4 separate regions of the Homo sapiens genome follow, and regions 2, 3 and 4 are each linked to region 1. Evidence: fine-mapped expression QTL. A gene starts in region 1. Each other region holds a variant in brackets. All regions are shown on one strand. Distances are from middle to middle. Region 1 holds the start of ORMDL1 (ORMDL sphingolipid biosynthesis regulator 1). Region 2 overlaps OSGEPL1 (O-sialoglycoprotein endopeptidase like 1). Region 3 overlaps ASNSD1 (asparagine synthetase domain containing 1). Region 4 overlaps ANKAR (ankyrin and armadillo repeat containing).

Region 1 (6,106 bases):
TATCAAATATCATTTTGTCCTATAATCAATGTAAGATAACTGTAAAGATTAAATTAATTAAATTGTATAATTAAACCTACTACATCTTTGTCCTGAACTGTAAAACTTTTTTTTTCCTGCTGTACAACTTTTGAATGTAGGAAATTATGTATTATGTATCTCTGGATGCCAGGCAGAACAATCAAATGCTTCACCCATGGCAAGCCCTTCACTTCATGAATATTAATGAAGGACCACTAAATATAATTTATCAGCATCTTTCTTATGCTAACGCAAACATTAGAAAAAGTATCCTCCTTCCCTTTATATACATAATTTCAATTGGCTTCCACACCATCCTCCAGCTCACCTGTATCTCACACTTTTTTTCTGGACTTTAGGGCCTTACTTCCATCTACCTTCTAAATATCATCATTTAGATGACCTGAAGGCAACCTAAACATAACATGTCCCAAACTGATCAGAGAATCTTTCTCTTTCTTTTTTTTGAGACAGAGTTTCAGGTTTCGCTCTTGTTGCCCAGGCTGAAATGCAATGGCACAATCTCCGCTCACTGCAGCCTCCACCTCCCGGGTTCAAGCGATTCTCCTGCCTCAGCCTCCCGAGTAGCTGGGATTACAGGTGCCCGCCACCACACCTGGCTAATTTTTTGTATTTTTAGTAGAGCCAAGGTTTCACCATGTTGGCCAGGCTGGTCTCAAACTCCTGACCTCAGGTGATCCGCCCGCCTCGGCCTCCCAAAGTGCTGGGATTACAGGCGTGAGCCACCACGACTGGCCTCTAATCAACTTTCTTCCTATATTTCTTGTTTGATAATAAAAGTAATAGCCAACATGAGAATTTTATATATATTATCCTATTTAATCCTCACAACAACTCTACGTATTCTATCATCCTTTATCACCAAATAGGATTTAAAGGCATGGTAACTTGCTCAAGATCACAAAACTATTAAGTGGCAGATGCACACCTTGGCATGTTTGACTCCAAAGGCCATGCTCTCAAACACCTTCCATCCAAGCACATAAAGCAAAATTAGAAACCTTGAAGTCATCCTAGAAATTCTACTCGCTCTCTACATCCTGCCACCCAGTCATCTCTCTCCTACTATCTAAATGTTTCCCAAACTAGTCCTCTCCTCTTTGTACTGCCTCCATTCGGCCTTTCTCTCCTGAACTACTGCAATAACCACCTAATTGATATTTTGACTCGAATCTCAACCACCTATAGGGTTCTTTCTGTATTTAAATTTCATCATGTTGCTGCCCCACTTAAAATTTTTATAAAGGTTTCCAATTGCCAACCAGGTTAAGTACAAACTTCTTAACAACTGGATTTTTGCCTCCTCTCCCAGTCATCCCATCGTTGCCCAAATGTGCTCTAGGGCGATCATACTGCACAGCTCGTCTTTTTTTATTTTTTATTTTTTGTGACAGGGTCTCACTTTGTTGCCCAGGCCAGAGTGCAGCGATTTTGGCTCACTGCAACCTCTGCCTCCCAGGTTCAAGCAATTCTCCTGTCCCAGCCCTGCAAGTAGCTGGGATTACAGGAGCGCACTACCACGCCCGGCTAATTTTCGTATTTTTAGTAGAGACAGGGTTTCACCATGTTGGCCAGGCTGGTCTCGAACTCCTGACCTCAGGTGATCCGCCCGCCTTGGCCTCCCAAAGTGCTGGGATTACAGGTGTGAGCCACCGTGCCCAGCCAACTTGTCTCTCTTAACATGGTGACACTCACTCCTTCCTCAGCTCACATGGTTCTCTCTCAGCTGACTTCTAATCATCCTTCCAGATTTAGTTCAGTATCAACTCTTCAAGCCTTTCTTCCCTGCTGCAGCCTCCTTTCCTTCACCTGCCAACAGATTAGGTATTCCTTCCCCTGCAGTCCCCCTTTACCTCATTTCTAATTAACCTCATCACAAGTTACTCTATTAATATGTGTTTCTGTCTGTTGCTCCTGACTCAGAGTTCTTTGAGGACAGGGGTTTTATATCAATCACACATCGCTAGCATAGCCCCTGGAATATAGCACTCTATACCATATGTGTACCAAATGGAAGGGTTTATATCGGGCTTACAAATCACAGCAAAGAATGTCTGGGAATATCAGGATAGTCAGTCTTCCATATTTGCTGGGAGGGAAAAGGAACACTTCTGAAGAAGTGCTGATGACCCGGAAAGTCAGTTAAGGACAACAGGTGTGCCTAAAAAAGAAGTAAAGATCAGAGAACTCACAGACTTCCATTAGAGAGAACACAAAGAAATCATTTATTTAAAGATCAGACTAAATCCAAAACAATTAGGTTCACAAAGCCAACAGAAATGCAAGATACAGACATACACAGCCAACATTCTCTTAAGTCAATTTCAAAATGTTGAAAGCTATTTCGGCAATAAAAATCACAAACTTTCTGCACTGCCAAGGTGAGGGAAATTACATTTCAAAGGCGATTCCAAAAAAACCTAATCAAGACTTTCCTCAGGATCAATTTTTGGTATTCACATTTCCTTAGCATGTAATACAGGTGCCTGTCTTCGGCGTACGGATAAACCCAGAAGGCCAAGAGCAAAAATCGTGATTAACTTTAAAGAGTTTAACTTGCACCCCTTGTATGATGCCACAGGATACAATACTATAAACCGCCACTCACACAAGATGAGTTACAGTTGCCATGGGTTAAATCTGCTGCCTGGAAAACAAATTTTAAGTCCTCCACCCAGAAGGGTCTGGGGAATGGGACGCAACAAAGACCAAGCCAGAACACCCCGGAGCCCAGACCTGCTCAGAAAACGCGTTCCACGTGTGCGCGCCCGCAAGCCCGGCTTCGCTTCCCGCCCCGCGGGGAGCGCCCTTAGCTGCCCTATAGCGTTCGCGCCCGGACCAGGACGAGTAGAGGGGACGGGGCCCTCGAGCCATCGAGGATATAATAAATACCCGTTAGTCACACCACACTACCTTCCTGCTAGCGCGAGGCAGGCAATTACCATCCACTAGCCGCAAGCAGCCAGCGTCTCACCCGATGCGCAGGCCCAACCCCGCACCCGCACCCGCACCCAGCACGCACGCGCGCGGCAGAGCGGGTGCAGAGAGCGCGGCACTGAGTCCCGCCTCGCCCGGGGGCAACGTGAGATTGGCGCTGCTCGCAGCCAATCCGCTGGCAGCGAGTCTGTCCGGGAAAGCTTCCGCAAGCTGCGCAGCGCCGGGCCTGAGGGCGTGTATCCGCGGCCGTAGCAGCCGGGCTGGTCCTGCTGCGAGCCGGCGGCCCGGAGTGGGGCGGCGGGTAAGTGGGCACGAACGCGGTGGACGCTGTACAGTCGCCTTCGTCGGTAGGGAACTGCTGGCGGCCTAGGGGTCGTCCTGAGAGGGAAAAGCGGGCTCCGGCTGCATCTGCGGCGCCCTGCGTGGCCGTAAGAGCCAAGTGGCCTCAGAGGCTCGCCCCCTACGCAAATCCTCGTTGTCTTGCCAGGGTCCTGACGTGACGTGCGGCCGCGAGAAGGAAGGGGCGGGTTGGGGGAGGCGCTGAGGTGGTAGCAGCGGCGGCTTTTGCTGAGTTTTCTCTGGCCCAGAGCGCTCGGGCTGTCGGTCTAGCAGGGGGGACTCCCCTGAGGGGCCGCTGCGGGTCGCCGTCTTCGGAGGCACCGGCGAGGGCAGAGCCAACAGCCTCTTCACGGTCTGTAAGGTCATTGTTTGCCAGTCGTGGGCAGCGCGGCAAACCTGCTGGGAAAAGGTTTTCTGGTTGGAATAGGATGAGTACCGCACCAGCTTTGCCTTCCAGCTGAGATGTAAATTTCAGGCCTCCATCCTGTGGAACGTGGGAAAACTATCTTGAGTGTTGGCATGTTCTAAGTATGACATAATAGTTTAATGTATGATAAATCATGGGTGTTTAGACGAAAGATTTACACATATAAATTGGAGGCTTTAGCGGTCTTAGTGTAACTAACTTTTCGTCCCCTTAACCCTTGATGCCTGTTCTATGGGTCTCTAGAGCGGAAGGAGCATTATACTCCGGAAACATTTGCTGGAAGGGGTTATGAGAAATTCCTCTCTGTATGCTAACTCCGTAATACAAGCGTTTGTGTATTTTAAAATCACAGCTGTTCCAAATATAATCTAGCCTCGTTTTCCCCCTCCGTCGGATGATAGGTGTTCTTCAGGACAGTTTTATTTTAAGCAATTCTTAGTCTCAAGTAAACACCATCATTAAAAGAACTGAGAACTATTATCAATTCTTCCTTTGGAGTCCATCTTCAATGGAAAGGAGAAGGGAAAACCTTTTTTAAAAAGAAGAAAGAAAACTGAAGTTTTTGATTTGACTAGAGAAATATTCAGAAGACTCCTTATTTTCACCTAGTTTAATCACAAAATTGAGAAACAAACATTATCCCTTGACCATGTAAATTTTACACCACATTATGTCAACAGCATGTACCTTCCACATTGAGTATTCAGAAAGAAGTGATCTGAACTCTGACCATTCTTTATGGATACATTAAGTCAAATATAAGAGTCTGACTACTTGACACACTGGCTCGGTGAGTTCTGCTTTTTCTTTTTAATATAAATTTATTATGTTGGTAAATTTAGCTTTTGGCTTTTCACTTTGCTCTCATGATATAAGAAAATGTAGGTTTTCTCTTTCAGTTTGAATTTTCCTATTCAGTAAAACAACATGCTAGAAAACAAACTTTTGGAAAGGCATTGTAACTATTTTTTCAAATAGAACCATAATAACAAGTCTTGTCTTACCCTAAAGTCAAATGCTGAAGATTCTTTACTGCTGTCATCAGCATCTACAAGTAGCATATTTTGGATGGTGTTTGTGTGCTACTTCAAAGTAACTAGGAAAAAATAATCCTCGCAACACAGGTACCTTGTCATGTCAGAATTGGGGGTGTTAGGTTGCCAGTTGTATCAGTGTTGATTCATTTCATTACTTCCTACAGAGCAAACATGAACGTTGGAGTTGCCCACAGTGAAGTGAATCCAAATACCCGTGTCATGAACAGCCGGGGTATGTGGCTGACATATGCATTGGGAGTTGGCTTGCTTCATATTGTCTTACTCAGCATTCCCTTCTTCAGTGTTCCTGTTGCTTGGACTTTAACAAATATTATACATAATCTGGTAAGAATTTCACATTATACTAAACACTTAAAAGTTTTAAGTTTAGTGGTTGCCGGAAATTAAGGGGAGGAAGGAATGGAAAGTTATTGCTTAATGGGTACAGAGTTTTTGGTTTTGCAAGATGAAGAGAGTTCTGGATGTGGATGGTAATGGTGATGATTGCACAACAATATGAATGTTTTTAATACCACTCAACTGTACATTTAAAGTCCCAGCACTTTGGGAGGCCAAGGCAGGCAGATCACAAGGTCAGGAGTTCAAGACCAGCCTGGCCAACATGGTGAAACCTCATCTCTACTAAAAATACAAAAATTAGCCGGGCATGGTGGCGCATGCCTGTAGTCCCAGCTACTCGGGAGGCTGAGGCAGGAGAATCGCTTGAACCTGGGAGGCAGAGGTTGCAATGAGCCGAGATCATTCCACTGTACTCCAGCCTAGGTGACAGAGTGAGATTTCGTCTCAAAAAAAAAAAAAAAGTGTCTAAGATGGTAAACTTTATGACATGTGTGTTTAAACATAGTTTTTAAAGAAGCTTAAGGTTTTGTGTTGTATACAACTTAGTTTTTTTAACAGCTTTTTTGAGATATAATTCACATGCAATAAAATCCACCCATTTAAAGTGTATAGTTTAGTAGTTTTTAGTATATAAGACTTAATTTTGAAGAATTCTAATCTGGGATAGAATTTTCTTTTTTCTTTCACGCTTTATTTCAACATTGGTCCTTTTTCTAAGTAAGACTTTTTTTTTTCTCATTGTATAGAATCTAGAAAATAGATCATTTTAGTTTCAATCCTTGTTAACTTATCTATCTAAATAGTGTAAGTATACTTCACTGTTTCAGTATTTAAGTTTTGAACTTAATCATCTTATGTGATTCAGGATCTTATGGTGCCTTAGCTGCTGCTTGTTACTCTCTTGTGTTAGCTCTACAGAGTATCAAAGTTTTGATTGACTGTACTGACCATATTATGCAGCCCT
Region 2 (6,106 bases), 32 kb after region 1:
CTTAAAATCTTCTGTCAGCAAGGAAATTAATTTTCCTTAAATACAATTTTTTCCTGTCCTTCCCATGCTCAAAACTTGTATGGAATGCTTTACAAGATTATTTTGGTGATTTCATTTGTCAACAAACAAATCCATGGGAGTCTGTTGTGCATAAACTGAAAAAGTCAGAAACATTATCCCCTTAATTACTGCTTACTGAGTTTTAACCATAGTGTGCTATGTTAGAAGGCACACAATTAGAAAATACTTGACTTACTCAGCTATATAATGATTAACTTGAAGACATGCTTTTAGCTGTAATATCATTTTTCTTCATTTTTACAATCTTAAAACTACAAAATGCTGTCTTTCTTTCTTTCAGAACAGGTGGGATTGTTCCTCCAGCAGCTCAACAGCTTCACAGAGAAAATATTCAACGAATAGTACAAGAAGCTCTTTCTGCCAGTGGAGTCTCTCCAAGTGACCTCTCAGCAATTGCAACTACCATAAAACCAGGACTTGCTTTAAGCCTGGGAGTGGGCTTATCATTTAGCTTACAGCTGGTAGGACAGTTAAAAAAGCCATTCATTCCCATTCATCATATGGAGGCTCATGCACTTACTATTAGGTTGACCAATAAAGTAGAATTTCCTTTTTTAGTTCTTTTGATTTCTGGAGGTCACTGTCTGTTGGCATTAGTTCAAGGAGTTTCAGATTTTCTGCTTCTTGGAAAGTCTTTGGACATAGCACCAGGTGACATGCTTGACAAGGTAATTAAGAATTAATTTCTCCATTCTTTTTTGTTATGTTGTCCATTTCAACTAAGTAGCAATAGATGTGCTACCACCATTCACCTAAATATTTCTGAATTTTATCTTAGTAAACTGAAAAAAATTCACATATGGTGAGAAAAAATAGAAAGAGTAGTACACAATTTTATAATTCTTAGCCTTTCTTAATAAAATGGTAAGAGGTTCATATCTGTACATAAAGGCTGAAATAGTTTGCAGATACAGTTATGTATTTTGCCAAATAATGTATGTGAAAGAACGTGCTTCGTAAACTAACATACTGCAAAAAAGGTAAAATAAGAGAATATATATAGATTAACATAAGGACATTAAAGATGCAATGCACAGAATTAAATCACACAATTACTTACACCACAGACAGGGTCCCCCCCCACCCCCCTTTGTTTTAGAATACTACAGAGGCTACTGCCATATATAGGAAAACAAACAAACAAACAAACAAAACACTGCTTCCCACAGTGAAATAATAGGAAGTATAGGACAAGTTCTTATTATTGACGTTCATCATTAAGCAGTTATTGTCAACTTCAAGCCCATTTTCCAACCAATAGAAGAGCAAACATAGACAGGGGCAGTGATTGGCCTCTTATTGTTCGGGTCATCATAAGGAACAGGGTTGTCTGCTTACCTGAATATCAGCTATAGTCTATATTTGCCAAAGTATAGCATGTTTTATTCATTCAGGGGTTTTTTGTTTTGTTAGTAATTTTCAATTTATTTCCTTTGCATCTTTTCGTTTCACAGTATTTAATTTTATGACTCTAAAAAATATGTTTCTTTGATAGGTGGCAAGAAGACTTTCTTTAATAAAACATCCAGAGTGCTCCACCATGAGTGGTGGGAAAGCCATAGAACATTTGGCCAAACAAGGAAATAGATTTCATTTTGACATCAAACCTCCCTTGCATCATGCTAAAAATTGTGATTTTTCTTTTACTGGACTTCAACACGTTACTGATAAAATAATAATGAAAAAGGAAAAAGAGGAAGGTATATTTCTAATTAGTAAAGTTGAACAGATAAATATTCCTGGATTGTGCCTAAAAATAGCTGCTCATTTCTGCAGGTATTGAGAAGGGGCAAATCCTGTCTTCAGCAGCAGACATTGCTGCCACAGTACAGCACACAATGGCATGTCATCTTGTGAAAAGAACACATCGGGCTATTCTGTTTTGTAAGCAGAGAGACTTGTTACCTCAAAATAATGCAGTACTGGTAAGTTTTATCTCATTTTATAGTAATAGTTACACTTTGCAATATGTTACTTTTTTCCCAAGACCTTGACCTTGTGTTTAGGATGAACAGATCTTTATGCCTTATGCTAGCCCTGACAGTATGAAATTATGCAGGATAGGAAAGACTAACAGCCATTTCTTGTACTAGTTTGGTAGCTTTATGGGACAGCTGTATAGCTTCTATGGCACATAAGTCTAATTTTGCATCTTCTTGTTGGATTTAAAAGAGGGCTTACAATAAAGAAAGTAAATGCAGTAACTGCTATCACTATTTTTAGAAAAATAGGTGGATTTCCTTCATCCTTTGATGAAATCCCTTTGTTTGTTTGTTTTTTTAATAAGCCAGTCAAATTTAGCAGTGGGAGGTGGTATACCAACTTTCGTGACACTAATGTTGATAAAGTTCTGATAATCCACTATATTGTACCAGCCAAAATCCCTTTAATTGTGCTTAAAAGCCTTGACAAACATCCTGTTTAACTGTATCTTAAACTTTATTCATTTAAAAATTATAAACTAAAGTGGGAAAATGTTTAAATGGTAGTAATTCATAGATGGAATTTTACATGGATATCAAAGAATAATTTTTTCAGAGTTATGTAGTAAAATGCACAAAATAATAAAAATTTCAGGGTCTAAAATAGTGTACTATGATTGAAATTATATTAAATAAATATTTAGATGAAAGGTTGGAAGAAAATATACAAAAATGCTAGTAATGTTTGTATGCTATTAGAATTATTAGTAATTTTTTTCTTTCCAAATTTTTATTACATAGATATGTCATCTGCCCATTACCCATCTCAAAATGGGATAGTTTATTATTGTTTAATGCTGATATTTTTCTCCAGGTTTAATTAGCAGCTTGGTTCATATCCATATATGATAGTTATTTTGGTTTTCTCAATTCCTTCAGGTTGCATCTGGTGGTGTCGCAAGTAACTTCTATATCCGCAGAGCTCTGGAAATTTTAACAAA[T/C]GCAACACAGTGCACTTTGTTGTGTCCTCCTCCCAGACTATGCACTGATAATGGCATTATGATTGCATGGTAAGCCACAGGATATACGTGCTTCACTCATAACTATGTAAATATTAATTGCCATTTTATCATACTAAGCCTTCTTCCTTCAGATCTTGGAGCTATTGATTTTATTTTAATGCTTCTTATTTAGGAATGGTATTGAAAGACTACGTGCTGGCTTGGGCATTTTACATGACATAGAAGGCATCCGCTATGAACCAAAGTATGTGGTATCATTCATGATCTTTATGCAAGTTACATTACTTAAGACAAAGCCTGGATTTTGCCTTTATATATGAGGTTTTCATTGACATTCTGGTGGTACTTGAAGGAAAGTTACATAAATTTCTTTCATGAACCTAGTTAAGGTTGATACCATATGAGAAATATTTTTGCTACAGTATCAAATTATAAAAATCTTGGCAAGTTTAGGTGAGTTAGAAACAGGTCATGAGTAAGGGTGATGAATTCCCTCCTTTGGAACTAGAATGTAAACTATGTCCATGACCTGGACTTTTGCAATGTCAAGAACATCTCAGAACCAGCAAGTATGCTGGGAAATTTAAGGAAAACATGCAGAAAGCATTCAGGTGTGAGAGTGGGTTGTGATTATGCTCTTACACAGGCAGTTGAGAATTGGCCGAAAGATAGCTGTTTCCTGCAAGCCTTATTTCCTCTCCCAAATCAAAGTTCCAGTGAATAGCACAGTTTTTTCTTTACTTTTTTTCTTTTTTTTTTTAGAGTCTTAGTGTCACCCAGGCTAGAGTGCAGTGGCGCATTCTCGGCTCACTGCAACCTCTGCTTCCCATATTCAAGTGATTGTCATGCCTCAGCCTCCTGAGTAGCTGGAATTACAGGTTCACACAGCTGTGCCCAGCTCATTTTTTGTATTTTTAGTTTTTGGGTTTTGCCACATTGGCCAGGCTGGTCTCGAACTCCAGGCCTCAAGTGATCCACCCACCTCGGCCTCCCAAAATGCTGGGATGACAGGTGTGAGCCACCACACCTGGCTGGTTTTTCAAATTACTATCAAATTCTGTTTTAATTCTGGAATAGTAAAAGACAATTATTTTCATAAATAATTATATTTTGAACACTGTTTCATCTGATGTTTTAAAACTTGTCAGCATTGGCCAGGCATGGTGGCTCATGCCTGTAATCCCAGCACTTTGGGAGGCTGAGGTGGGCAGATCATCTGAGGTTAGGAGTTCGAGACCAGCCTGGCCAACATGGTGAAACCCCGTCTCTACTGAAAATACAAAAATTAGCCAGGCGTAGTGGCAGGCACCTGTAATCGCAGCTACTCGGGAGGCTGAGGCAGGAGAATTGCCTGAATCCTCGAGGTGGAGGTTACAGTAAGCCGAGATCACGCCACTGCACTCCAGCCCGGGTGACAGAGTGAGACTCCATCTCAAAAAAAAAAAAAAAAAACACAACTTGTCAGCATTATATTCCGTAACTTGACAGTTGTGCTATATATGAATTACATGTATGCTGATGATGAATGAACTGAATTGAGTTAGTAGTACCGGAAGGCATCCCTTTGATACCTTGTCTCAGATAGAGTATATCCTCTGATTCAGTTATGCCCCCTTGTGGCAGTGTTGAGGCTGGAGATAATGGCTTTTTCCAGGTTGGGATTCAGTCAAAGCAAAGCCTTATCTTGGACACCATGGTAGAAAAGCAGAAATCTGAAGCAAAAATTAGTTACTGAGGAGGAACAGAAAAAGACAGCAGGAACTAAGACCTCTTTGGCTAGTAATGGCAAAGGATGGTAGAAAAGGGGCAAGGCAGCTTTTGAAACTTCAGAGAAGAACCTATAGAAACCTAGGACATTTCTAAAATGTGAATGGATACAGGTTTGACTTTAGCTGTGTGGCAAAAATGTTTTTACCTTTTTAGCTTTGTAGAGAATTATAAGATATTTTTCATTATTTTTATATTTCATTTTATGTTTTTAACTTATTTACAGTATTTGAGAACAGCAAAACTGTTTCTTTCAAAAATATCTCAAAATTTAGATTTCTTATTAATGAGACTAGCTTTCATTATCCTGACTTGAGGTCCCAGTATATTTGTAAGTATTTAAGAATCATCACCACATATGATGAATTAAATATTTGATATTTATACCATCAGAATTCTAAGCAAATAGTCTGCAGAACTAGTGATGGATCATGAAGCAAATAAATAATACGATTTGTCTGCTTATGATGTAGATGTCCTCTTGGAGTAGACATATCAAAAGAAGTTGGAGAAGCTTCCATAAAAGTACCACAATTAAAAATGGAGATATGATTTCTGCTGTTCAAAAAAGTCCCTAAAGGTAGTATTAAGGTTAAAATTAAGTTTTTATTGTTTTGTGTATCAAATTGTAGAAGATATATAATATTAATTATTCATCAAGATTTTATTTTTTTTTTTCTATTTGATGTTTTACCTGCTCTTCTGAGATACTATAATGTGTTAAAAGTCTTACAAGGGAAGATAGTTTTTTTCTTTTAATTATTAAAAACCAAAATAAAACATCTTTTGAGAAAGGAATGTATTGATGCTGGCAGGTAGAAAGGAAGCTTTGAAAGAAGCACAGTAATTTTGCTGAATTCTGGCCCTGTATCATACAGGCCTAGGACTTTCCCCCACTTCCTCAAATCAGGATAGGAGAAGCTATTTTTTAACTCCTACTGAAACAAGAACCTGACTTTATAATGAGAGAGCAGTTTAATTTTTTTTTATCATTATTATTTTTTGGAGATAATCTCCCTCTGTCACCCAGGCTGGATTGCAGTGGCGTGATCTCAGCTTACTGCATGCAACCTCTACCTTCTGGGTTCAAGCGATTCTCCTGCTTCAGCCTCCTGAGTAGCTGGGACTACAGGAGCCCACCACCACGTCTGGCTAATTTTTTGTTTTTTTAGTAGAGATGGGGTTTCACCATGTTGCCCAGGGTGGTCTTGAACTCCTGAGCTCAGGCAATCTGCCTGCCTCAGCCTCCCAAAATGCTGGGATTACAGATGTGCTCAAGAGAGCAATTTTAGATCAGTCATGTCAAAGCAGACA
Region 3 (6,106 bases), 120 kb after region 1:
TATATCACAATTCTGTATTAGCTGCTTTAAACATTCTTCATATGCATTTTTATTTGAGCATAATATAATACTTTCATAAGTAAGGGCTTTTACTAGACAAATTCCTTTCTCTATGACCTAGCTGAAATAACAGACTGAATTTCTACCTCTCTCATGTCCTTCAAAGAGAAAACAGTTTAACAGTTTACGGACTTTATTATGGCATTAGTTATCAGTTTATAGTGAAATCTTGAAAATTATGACAGAATAATGACATAGTAGCTAAACTTTTACATGGGCTAGGACCAGAAACTTAAGAAAGACAACTGTGTAAAGGCAACTACAAGTCAGTGGAAAGAGGAAAAGACTGAAGTAGAGACAAGAAACAATGAAGTCAAAGAGAGAGAGAGAGAGAGGGAGAGAAAGTGTAGTATGTTTAATTCTCATGAAGCTTACTTGGACTTCCTATTCTTGGATGCTTGCACCCTTGTAATAAACTACCACTTAATCAATTAGCCTACTTGAATGAATTTTTGCTCTTTATAACTAAATGTCACATCTTCCTTTATCCTTACTTAATGTTTTAGAAAGTTTTATTCAAATACTGTACTTGTTCACTACCTTCAGAAATATGATATAGGTAAAAATAAACCTGAAAAGCAAGAATACATACATGAAAGTGCCTTGGTTTCTTTGAAGGTTTTAGGTAATCTGCAATATGTAACTAAATTGTGTTCAAAAAACGTGGCAGAGGAATATCCAGTGTAAGGACTACCTTCAAATCAGCATGGATCTGTACATACAGAAATGTCTATAGAGACAAAGCCAGTTTCTATAACACTGGAGAAGGCTTGCAGGTGGGGCTTATGCCCTTACTGGGAGGAAAGCAAACATTAAAAGCTGAACAAAACCCTCTAAATACCTTCTCTTAGTATTTCACTATCTCAGTTTTACTCTGTTTTTTTGTGGAAACAGAGTCTCGCACTGTCTCCCAGGCTGGAGTGCGGTGGCGCGATCTGGGCTCACTGCAACCTCCACCTCCTGGGTTCAGCCATTCTCAGCCTCCCGAGTAGCTGGAACTACAGGCATGCAGCACCATGATCAGCTAATTTTTTTGTATTTTTAGTAGAAGTGGGGTTTCATCATGTTTACCAGGCTGGTCTTGAACTCCTGTCCTCAGGTGATCCACCCGCCTTGGCCTCCCAAAGTGCTAGGAAGACAGGTGTGAGCCACCATGCCTGGCCTACTTTGACAGTATTTTTCACTATAGTCTTAAAAACAATCCTGTCATTATGTTACCTTTGAAAATTACTGAAAAGACATTTCTTAGAGAATGAGTTCTAGAAAATAAATGCTCTCCTGGCTCTTCCCAGCTCTGTTTCTGACTTTGTTTATAATACAAAGCCAAGCTATTATTGCTGCTCTTATTCATGTGAACAGTCTCCAAAGAGAAAACAAACTTTAAAGTCTCCATTTACACTCTGCTGTTTTTATAAAAATACCGTAAGAACACTCAAATGATTAGAATTACCTTGCTTCTTTTCCATGATCACCAATAACTCTGTCATCACGACCAAGATTTCTAGAAGAAATTCGACCCAGTTCCATCATTATTTCCTTATTCAATCCTTCCAGCCCATGCGACTGAAAGCGGACACGATGACGAGAATAACCTGCAAGTTGCTCATCTGCACCAATTCCAGTGAGAACTACCTATGAGGTTTAAAGAAATCCGTATAAAAATGTTATCAACTACACAGTAAAGAAAATAAGATAAATGCACCTAAAATATGCTATATTCTTACAATCAAAATGCTAAAAGCTTTAAGGGTCAAAAATAGGTCTCAGGAATTCTCAGGAGAAGAAACACTGTGTCATACCTTTGCATTGCTCTGATAGGATTTCACTCCTTCCTGGGCCACTAACCAACCAATTCCTCTAGAAGCAAACCAGACTGCACAGCCAATGCTATCATCCAAAACTGTATCCAATGGCCGAATTAAGTGACATATTCGAGTTCTTCTTAATTTCTGCAGTTCTTCCATAGAAACATTAATTTCAACAAAATTCCAAATTCGGGAAGGGCTAACAGCTTGTAGTTCCTTTAGTCCCGCCCTTCCTGTGATTCGATCTGGTACACTGACATGTTTATTAGGACTGTCAGCAGCAGCAGCAGCAACATCTTTAGAGAATTCTTCTGAAGGTATTTCACATTTATTTTTCTGTTTATTCCCTTCTCTGTTAAAGGTAGTTGGCATGGTCTTTTCTTCAGCTATGAAAGCTACATTAAGAAGATCAATTGGTTCATCTAAAGGAATATGACGGTCAGCAAGGGTTGCAATAACCATGGAATCAATGCCCCCAGAAAACAGGATTGCAACATTTGCTTTCCTATCACACGTTTTCAAAACTTCATTTGCTGTCAGGTTTTCATCCCTAGGTAAACACAAGACACGTTTCTTGACTGCTACACTCAGGACATCAATGAACTGCTGAATTACTTCCTTCATGTGTACATCAGTAAGAAAGACTTGAAGTATCTCTCTTGTAGGTGGCACATTGGAAATATTACTGCAATGAGTCTCCA[A/G]TGCAGCTTGTGGCAACATCATATTTAAAGGAACAACAGGTTTTTCAAGATACAGTTTGGCTTCATTTGCTACCACTGATACAAATGCTGGTAAGTCTGCTGAAATTTGACTCAGGCTATTAACATTTTCTTCAATAATATTCTCCCTAGAAATATATTTCCAAGGATACAGTTGTAAAATAATGCATCCGGAAATGACAGTAGACTTAAGATCAATTCTGAAAAGTCCAGATGCTGGAACTTCTTGCCACTGATTTGCCAATCCAGATGTTTGGGTGCCAACTGAAGAGAGGCAGAAACTCTTGCCCAAATTACTAAAATGCCAAAGCAAGCTACGGCGACCAAAAAAATCCCTACCAAACCATAAATAATGACTAGATGCTTGATAATATATAAATGACCAGGGACCTTGTACTTCTGAGAAGAGTGACAAAATCTCAGATTCATTCTTACAGGAGGAAAGATAATTAAACAAAATTTGAGTGTCATTCTCTTCAGCTTCAACCTTTATTCCACTAAAAATTTCTCCATTCCATAGAAACACATTGCCTCTTTCATCTTCCACAGGCTGGGTAGTCAAAACACCCCTCAAGTGTAGGACGTGAGCAGAAAATAAACACTGGTAGTTAACATCAGACTTTAACAATTGTTTACTACTATTGGGTCCCCGCTGTTTAAGATTATATAGTAAGTCCTCTTTTAAATCTTGACTGAAATGCTCAGCAGAAAAGTTTACAGAACAACAAATGCCACACATTGTTATGTGAAATCAGGTTGACTATTTCTTGATTTTGGTCTTGTCTAAGTTTTCTATTTCTTGGTATTCTTTTTTCAGTTCATCCAATATATCTGTTGCAGGGAAGGAGAATAAATATTAAATAACATAAAAATTCTTGGACTTTTACCTAGCAATTCAGAGGGCAACACAAGCTGTTTACCAAAATCAAACCATATAAACACACACACTGTGCCAGTACCAATGATAATTAACAACAGGCTACTAATAAAGAATGTTTATCTTTTAGAAAAATAGCTTCTGTTTTGCCGAGTGCTGATTTTGGCCCAAGCACTTGGCTAAGCACTTTTAACATAGCATCTTATTTAGATCCCACAATACCTTGGAGGCTTAAAGTATTTCACCCAAAGTCACAAAGGTAGAAAGTGGTAATGGTTTGTCATACTTAGACCTGTTTAAAATTCTAAAGCACATGTTAATAACTATTGCTTTCTAAAACATTTATAATATATATATATATATATATATATATATATATATATATATATATATATACACATATATATATAACTGTTGACTCATCTTCGGAAGCCTAATTTGAAGAAAATCAAACTGCTGCATTAATCTTTAGATATATATTTTAACACTCAGATGAGTATAATTTAGGCACCCCCCAAAAACCCCAAAAAAGAAAAAACTTACTCTTGCTCTCAGACAGCATTTCTGTTCGGTCTGCAAGAAAGAATATATTGCTGTTCTGTTGTTGCCTATATACTTTCTGGAAAACATAATTTAGGCTAATATCAAATTTTGATCTAAAAAGTAGATATTAAAATCCTTAAACCCTATTATCACTAATTCTTGAAAATCTATTCAGTACAATACTTTAGCAAATACAGACAAGCAAAAAGACAAATAAAAGTCACCCACTGCCCAACTACCAGAAATTGCTACTACTGAAATGAAACTATTTTCTCTCCATTTTAACAAAAAAGGTTCTTACTGTACCTGCAGATTTATGCTTTTATCAATGAGCAATATATTGAGAATACTTTTTCTTATCAGTAAGTGTTCTTTTACAAGAACACCAAAATGCCAAAGCAAGCTATGGTGACCAAATTATACCTACTGCTATATAGATATAATATATTACAGTTTATTTGCTCAGCTTCAAATACTAGACATTTAAGGTGTTACCATCTCTTTGCTATTGTAAATCAAGGTTGTGATGATTATCTTTGTAACTAAATCTTTGTGCACTACCATGATTCTCTCCTAAGTATCAACTACTATAAATGGAACTGCTGGGTCAAAGTGTTATAGTTTTGAATTGTTGAGACTTTTTGCCAATTTGCCCTCTAGAGAAAGTCTGTATTAATTCTGCCTCAACTTCTTTTTTTTTTTTTTGAGAAGGAGTCCTGCTCTGTAGCCTAGGCTGGAGTGCAGTGGTGTGCTCAGCTCACTGCAACCTCTGCCTCCCAGGTTCAAGCGATTCTTGTGCCTCGGCCTCCTGAGTAGCTGGGATTACAGGCACACGCCTGGCTAATTTTTGTATGTGCCTCAACTTCTAATATTCCATAAGTGACAATATCAGAAATATCTAACCAGCCAGTTATTACATAATCTTTACAAAGCTTTTAAGAGCTCAAACTCATTTCTTCCTGAATGTTAAAATGCAATTTGACACTATAACCATACACAAAGCAGTAGCTTACTTGTTTGTAACATATTAATGGAAATGGCATTAAATAACCATGTTACACATTTAGGAAAATCTATGTAAAAATTTTTTGGAGGGAGGGGAAGCAATGTATCCTTTTTTGTTCAATAATTATCCACATTCATTTAAAAGAAAAGTTTCTTCTCATCTCAATATAAAGTTCGTTTATATCAAAAGAAAACATCAAATTCAGGTATAAAACATCATTAGTGATTATAGCTCCAAGATACCAAAATACAACTAGTATCATTTGTTGCAAAGGCAATGTGAATGGCATATGATAGAAAAAAGACATCTTCAGCTATGAGATCTATCCATTTAAAAAAAGAATCTAGACACTTGCAATTTTAAAAGATGCTGAAATACTATACATTTTATTAAAGTATGATTAAATCTTATATATACTTCTTATAACTTTAATATATAGTTAACATAAATAAACCTCCCACATATTATTCAGAATTCCTATAATAACTCACCCTATTCTTCTTAAGGTTAGAAAGTTCATCCACCACAATTTTTTGTTCTTTAATCTATTGAAATAAAGAAAAACTCCTTAAGTCAGATGTTTTCAAAGTATGCTCAATGAAAATCCCTTAAGGGGTTGTTTTAAAATTAGAGATGGGATAAGGGGCTATGATGTACTGGTTTTCCAAACGGGCAGTTTGTGAATATACAGATCATTTTCAACAGGAGTCTCTGTGTGGGGGTACAGTTCAGGAAAAGCTGGAGGAGAAAAAACAGTGATTAGACTTGCAAAATGTTAGGTAACCCATTAAGACCAGACAGGGATTTTCGTGTTCATAACCAGCAATCATGCCAAGGACTACAGTTACTAAACAAGGTTTATACCTTTTGTTAAAAATATATGATATACACCAGGCCGGGTGCGGTGGCTCATGCCTGTAATCCCAGCACTTCGGGAGGCCAAGGCGGGCGGATCACCTGAAGTCGGGAGTTCGAGACCAGCCTGACCAACATGCAGACACCCCATCTCTACTAAAAATACAAAATTAGCCAAGCGTAGTGGCACATGCCTGTAATCCCAGCTATTCGGGAGGCTGAGGCAGGAGAACTGCTTGAA
Region 4 (6,106 bases), 44 kb after region 1:
TGATGAAACCACAACATTGAGTCAAAATCCTCTGAATACCTGGCAAACTTCACTGTAACTAACCACTAAGTCTAATTTAGCCCTGTTTCCACCCTGGGAATTTGGCCTAGCTTTGGATCTGGTCCGGAAAACCCATTTGATGCTAAGGTCAGGTGGTGGTCTTGTCTCAGAACTCTCAAATGTATCCCTAGTCTGCTAAAAAGTGACTTCTTGAATCAGATGTTGTGGTAACCAGTCTCCCCAAAACTTTCTAAAATGTGAATAATCCTGGCCAGAGAGGATCTCTAAGATCTAGATGTGTTCTTGTCTGCACCCACAACTCTGGTGCTGAGTTGGAATTAAAACAGGTTGTGGCAGTGGTCATTTAGAATAAAGTTTATCCTCTGCTATACAGGAGATATGTTCATATCAAGAATAGTTCCTCTTGTTGGATCTTACTAAACCTCATTAAAGTCTCCTCTATCGATGATTTCACTACTGCAACTTCTAACATAGGACCATACCTTAAGGAAGGAAGTCCCACCAGTGTTTGTTGCATTTGAAATTCCTTTAAAAATGCTGGGTTAATACTTGCATCTCTGCTGATATTATTTTTTATACGAATGAACTGATTAGGTTTATTCCTGCATTCTTTTAATAGGATGCGGAAAGCATTTGCATTGTATGTTAAGTAGCCAAGAGCAGAGGAACAAGCTGCACGAACCTAAATGAAGAAACAATTCTTTCTTAACCAGTGGGCTTTGTTCTTAAAATATCTTAATGTTCTAATTAGCTATTTCATAGGAAAGTCTCTGTAAGGGAGGGAGCAAGTGTAAGCAAATATGTATGCAAACAAATGGCAGTGTATAGACGGAAGCTTAACTGCCATATTTTTACAGAGAGCTGTCAACTGCCATTGATTTCTAGTGGTTGTTCTCAGTCTTAACTGCATTTTAGAACCACCTGGAGTGTTTAAAAAAAAAAAAGCCCACCAACTAAATCAGAATCCTTTCAGGGGTGTGTGTGTGTGTGTGTGTGTGTGTGTGTGTGTGTGTGTGTGTGTGTGTGTGTGTGTGTGTGTGTGTGTGTGTGTCAGGTAATTCTAGTGTGTGTGTGTGTGTGTGTGTGTGTGTCAGGTAATTCTAATGTGTGTGTGTGTGTGTGTCAGGTAATTCTAATGTGCCACCAAAGAAAGAACTTGAGTTTGAACTAAGGTAGTGGATGCAACCCTGACAATGCATTAGCATCACCCATATAACTTTGACAATTATGCCTGGGTTCCATCCCTAGAAACTCTTATTTAATTATTTTGTTTATCATTCTCAAAGGAGTAGGAACAGACACTTTGGAGAATAGCTAAGTGGTACACATAGGAAAGCTGAACTCTTGGTAACAGAAATCTTAGAGAAAGCAACTTATTTATTTATTTATTACTTTAAAAAAATTTTTTTTTAACATTCAGACGTTACAAGAGCAACTCACTTTTCCACTGGCAAAAACAGAAAGAAGCACAAGTGTCAGGCCACAGGACTCTAGAAAAAATAGTTCTTTGAAGAAAATACCCTCTGTCTATGACCCATAGATTGGTCATATGATTAATTAAAGTATGTTCCTGGCCAGTTGTAGGGAATATGATAGTAGCATAAAAAGTTTCATAGAATGAACATATTGGTCTTTATGTTGGCATCCGGTTGCTCTGTATGCTCATATGTCTTCTAAACCTTGAACCCTGGACCTGTAGTTCAGCTGCTGGGAACTTGTTCGAAATGCAAATTCTAGGGCCCACCTCAAATGTATTGGCTCAGAAACTCTAGGAATGGGGCCAAGCAATATAACAGGCCCTCCAGGTGATTCTGATATACCCTAAAGGTGGAGTAACACTGCTTTAGACCTTAGTGGAAGAGAGTAGGGGAACACTCAGAGGCAAGCCACTGCTGTGACCAGCACGGCCTCTTTCACACACCCTTACATCTAACCCTGCTTGACACATAAGGAAAGCTATCCTATGAATTCCATTTTCATTCATTTCAAATCATAGAAATAACTTAGATCAGAGTCACCGGTTTTCATTAGATACTTAGTAAACAATTATAAGTTTCTTTGTCATCAACGTACTTATAGATTGACTCTTAATTCCAGGATTAAGATGACTTATTTTGTAGGGTTTTGTTTTTGTTTTTTAAATCAGAAACTAATTTGAACAGGTAGTTCTTTTTAAATCTTTAATTGTAGTCGTTTTATACTGCTTTTGTGATTAAAATCCTAATTTTAAGTCTTAGGGTTAAAACAAATGTATATTTTTATAGGAATTAAAATTGTGGATGGCAGATATGTATGACTAATTAGTATTAGAAAAGTCATGTAATTTTGAGTTAGTAACAAGAACTATATTATATATATAACACAGTCATGTAATTTTGAGTTAGTAATAAGAATTATATTATATCTATAACACAGTCAATCAGTGGAAAAATTAGTCCACAGAGGGAGAGGTAAATTATATTTTTAGC[A/G]TATTTAATTTTAGAATTAGTTTTTGCTTGTTTTTACCTCTTCTATTCCCGAGTACAAATGATAGCAGAGCCGTTGGATTGTTCCTAATGTGGTAAATGCTTCTGGGATACCAGCTCTAGAATGAGCCAGGCTTGCTATTAAATTCCCTATAAATTAAACAAGAAAAATGCTTGTGTTATTTAATTGATATAAACTTATAATACTTTCATTAATTGCACATAGCACTGAAAAAAGTTTGTGTCACAAGACATCTCTGTCAATGAAGCAGCACTGAGAAAAAGCATGCATATGTAAATATAGAATAAACTCCCCAAAATTACAGTTTGGTTTTCTGTCACAAATAGTGTAAATTAAATAGGTTTATGTAAGGGTGAAAAATTTGAAAATTAGAGGTTTTCTTTCTCCCATATCTTCAGAATATATTTTGTTTTGAAGTTTTTAGGGTTTTAAAAATAACTATGAACATAATGATTTAATTATCATAAGAAAATTTAGGCCGGGCGTGGTGGCCCACACCTGTAATTCCAGCCCTTTGGGAGACCGAGGTGGGCAGATCACCTGACTTCGGGAGTTCGTGACCAGCCTGACCAACATGGAGAAACCCCATCTCTACTAAAAATACAAAAATTAGCCGGGCGTGGTGGTACATGCCTGTAATCCCAGCTACTCGGGAGGCTGAGGCAGGAGAATCGCTTGTACCTGGGAGGCAGAGGTTGCAGTGAGCAGAGATCGTGCCATTGCACTACAGCCTGGGCAACAAGAGCGAAACTCCGTCTCAAAAAAAAAAAATTAATATGTCCTTTTTGCGGTTGAAATGGCTTTGAGTTAAGCCTTATTAATACTTTAAAATCAATCAATGTATTGCTTATTGAGGTTTAAAAATCACTGAAGTTTTTACATAAAAGTAAATGTTTTCAGATTTAAAATAATAAAGTGTCCCAATAATTAAATGTGCAGCTAGCAACTGAATATTATTTCATTTATATTTGTTTGAAGATAAAAATGTATTTTCATATTTCTGTGTGGAGTATGTGGATACTTTATTGAGATATGACGTGAGTTTTTGTTCTCCTTATATTTTTGTCTGGCCTCTATTATAAGCCAAGAAATTCCTTGTGTTTATTGCCTCCGAATGGGGAAAATTGGTTGTATCATCTAAAGCAAAAATTGTCTAAAGGTAAGCTCTATTTAAAGTTAAAAAGACCCTTTAAAGATGGGAAGTTAGAAATGGAAACAGACCAAGGGAGCAGCTAAGAAAGAGAACTAAAGTTTATAGTTCTCAAAGGAGTAGAAGGAGGAACTCCGAGTAGAGAATAGCTAAGTGGTATAAATAGGAAAACTGAATTCTTGGTAACAGAAATCAGTTTCCTAAAAACTTCTGTGCCTTTGGAGCATCTTCTGGAAACCATGTCAACTTGACACCAAGCACATCAGTTATTTTACACTATACCTGAGGCCTGAATATCAAGCTTTGCCTGAGATACCCTGGACATGCATATGACTGGTTGTGGAGTGCAGAGAAAGTCCAGTAATTTCTGAGATTCATTTCTCCTCATCCTGGAGGAATTAATTTAATATTTGAAAGCCAATGTAATATGGCATTTCTTTCCTATAAGAGTTTGTGGAGGCCAGGTGTGGTGGCTCATACCTGTAATCCCAGCACTTTGAGAGGCCGAGGCGGGCGGATCATGAGGTCAAGAGATCGAGACCATCCTGGCCAACATGGTGAAACCCCATCTCTACTAAAAATACAAAAACTAGCTGGCCTTGGTGGTGCATGCTTGTAGTCCCAGCTACTCGGGAGGCTGAGGCAGGAGAATCGCTTGAACCTGGGAGGCGGAGGTTACAGTGAGCTAAGATCGCACCACTGCACTCCAGCCTGGCAATAGAGTGAGACTCCATCTCAAAAAAAAAAAAAACTGTGGAGTCTAAACCCACTACAGTTGTTTTTCAGAGTCACAGAATTACTATAACATTGAATTAATAATGTTATTTAGATTAAAACATATTTAATAACTTCTTTAAACTTTTTTTCTAGCTAGTTTCCATCAGAAAGTTTTCATTGCTTCATTTTTCCTTCCTTGCCATGCACATATACTTCATAAACATGTAATTCTATGGCATCAAGTAAAGTTTCCTTTAGTGATACATTTTAATTAAAAAACAAATACTTATTTGTTTATATTGGTAGTAGTCACTGCATATTACTCATTCTGACCCTGCCTTATGTTACTTTAAGAGTGGCATAACAAGTCAATTAAATATTACTGATCACCTATTATGTGTGAGCTGTTGGGTTAGGTCTGCAGTAGACACAGTTATACAATAGCAATAAATGTGTTGAGAACGCTATGGGACCATCTTGCTTTGCTTTGTTGCACAGCGATGTAAAGAACTTTTCAGTGTTAGCAAAATGTGCACAACTGGACAAAAGGAAACCAGACAGAGGTACATCTGTGTAAATCTGCCACCACTATTATAAATCAGTTTTTTTATTTTGCTGTTTGTAGGTCATAGGTGAATTCTCATTTATATCTTGGAAAAAAAAGTTAAGGGTTTGAAAAAGTAATTAGGAAAGCAAAAAGTCTGTATTCAGAGTTACTCAGCTTCTGTTTGGGGTACAGAGTAGACACCCATTGTTTCGTGTAGACTTGCTGTGGAGTTCCATGTAGATATAAACATAAGTTCGTTCTTTAAACTTGTGGCAGTGTATCAGGCGTATTATTTTATTATTATTCAGATTACAATAAACTGTTTTTGAAAATAGTTTTATGTGGCTAAAATTAACTTCTAGTCATTTCTTACCTGTCAAGACAATAGTAGAAGTCTGAACTGAATACAGACTATCAACTAAAATAGTAACACCTCTTGCAGACAAAGTAATATGGTCCATATCTCTAATGACTTTAGCCAGTACAACAATCTGAAAACAGAAAAGAAGCAGAGAGTCTTTGAACATTTTCTACTCAGCTTCTCTAATTACACGTTTGTCATTTTTTATGTTTTTTTTTTAATTCTTTTGATACTTCTTAAAGGGAGTGTTTAGAGGATTCAATAGAAGCAGCATGTGGTGGTGGGGAGAGTTAGAGTATTTGTCCCTGTCTGGTCATAGCAGTGATCATAGGGGGTACTATTATTCTTCCTACAATGTTTGCAACTTTTGCACCCTTTCAATATGGGTTCATAGAAATTACTTCTCTTAAAGGGCACAGGATAGAAAATGAAGAGAGAGAATAAGACTTCCCAGATACATACAGTTGTTACTAGGTTGAAGGATCAGTGTGATCAACTAAAGATTTGCAGTTAGAAAACCTGTCTTGGATGCTAACATGTTTTTCTACCTATTTACTTTTAATATGGGGGTGATGAAAATAATACTACCTGATTGTCAACCTTACAGGCTTGTTATAAACATCAGATGAGGTATAAAGGCATAAGCAAGTGTCTTATAACTTGTAAAATTCTGTATTAATGAAGAAATCCTCATAGATAATGGAGTTTTTATGAGGTAGAAGGGGCTTATGTGCAAAGTACTAAGTTTTTACAAATAAGTAAACGTTTTTCTGGGCCTCCAAATTGTTGTAATTTTCAAGTTTTCACAAAATGACATATTTAT

Evidence for each region. PIP is the estimated chance that this variant, and not a neighbour inherited with it, causes the effect.
Region 2: its variant is fine-mapped to the expression of ORMDL1 in whole blood (TOPMed, PIP 0.95).
Region 3: its variant is fine-mapped to the expression of ORMDL1 in whole blood (TOPMed, PIP above 0.99).
Region 4: its variant is fine-mapped to the expression of ORMDL1 in monocytes (Quach 2016, PIP 0.95). The same link has a PIP of 0.9 or more in monocytes after Pam3CSK4.

Annotation. Positions count from the first base shown.
Region 1 is chr2:189,781,443-189,787,548 of GRCh38, reverse strand. ORMDL1 (ORMDL sphingolipid biosynthesis regulator 1) reads left to right here and starts at 3,210. Exons shown (of 5, transcript NM_016467.5): 1 at 3,210-3,280; 2 at 4,426-4,535; 3 at 4,947-5,127. The coding sequence starts at 4,954. It overlaps PMS1 (PMS1 homolog 1, mismatch repair system component), which reads right to left and starts at 3,099. Exons shown (of 13, transcript NM_000534.5): 1 at 2,956-3,099. RefSeq lists enhancers at 2,682-2,731, 3,282-3,511, 3,522-3,581, 3,672-3,751, 3,037-3,923 and a silencer at 3,092-3,141.
Region 2 is chr2:189,749,816-189,755,921 of GRCh38, reverse strand. OSGEPL1 (O-sialoglycoprotein endopeptidase like 1) reads left to right here. Exons shown (of 9, transcript NM_022353.3): 3 at 362-749; 4 at 1,577-1,781; 5 at 1,858-2,006; 6 at 2,943-3,073; 7 at 3,198-3,269; 8 at 5,266-5,372. The coding sequence ends at 5,344. It also overlaps a transcript of ANKAR not described here. Among named protein-coding and RNA genes, the nearest start is that of OSGEPL1-AS1, 9.9 kb to the left of the region's middle. The variant T/C (reference allele first, on the strand shown) is at 3,005.
Region 3 is chr2:189,663,350-189,669,455 of GRCh38, reverse strand. ASNSD1 (asparagine synthetase domain containing 1) reads right to left here. Exons shown (of 6, transcript NM_019048.4): 2 at 5,502-5,555; 3 at 4,005-4,080; 4 at 1,860-3,415; 5 at 1,511-1,692. The coding sequence starts at 3,323. It overlaps ASDURF (ASNSD1 upstream open reading frame), which reads right to left. Exons shown (of 4, transcript NM_001353493.2): 2 at 5,502-5,555; 3 at 4,005-4,080; 4 at 3,055-3,415. The coding sequence ends at 3,345. Among named protein-coding and RNA genes, the nearest start is that of ASNSD1, 4.9 kb to the right of the region's middle. The variant A/G (reference allele first, on the strand shown) is at 2,567.
Region 4 is chr2:189,737,872-189,743,977 of GRCh38, reverse strand. It overlaps ANKAR (ankyrin and armadillo repeat containing), which reads right to left. Exons shown (of 23, transcript NM_001378068.1): 19 at 5,296-5,413; 20 at 2,527-2,636; 21 at 504-703. Among named protein-coding and RNA genes, the nearest start is that of OSGEPL1-AS1, 22 kb to the left of the region's middle. The variant A/G (reference allele first, on the strand shown) is at 2,490.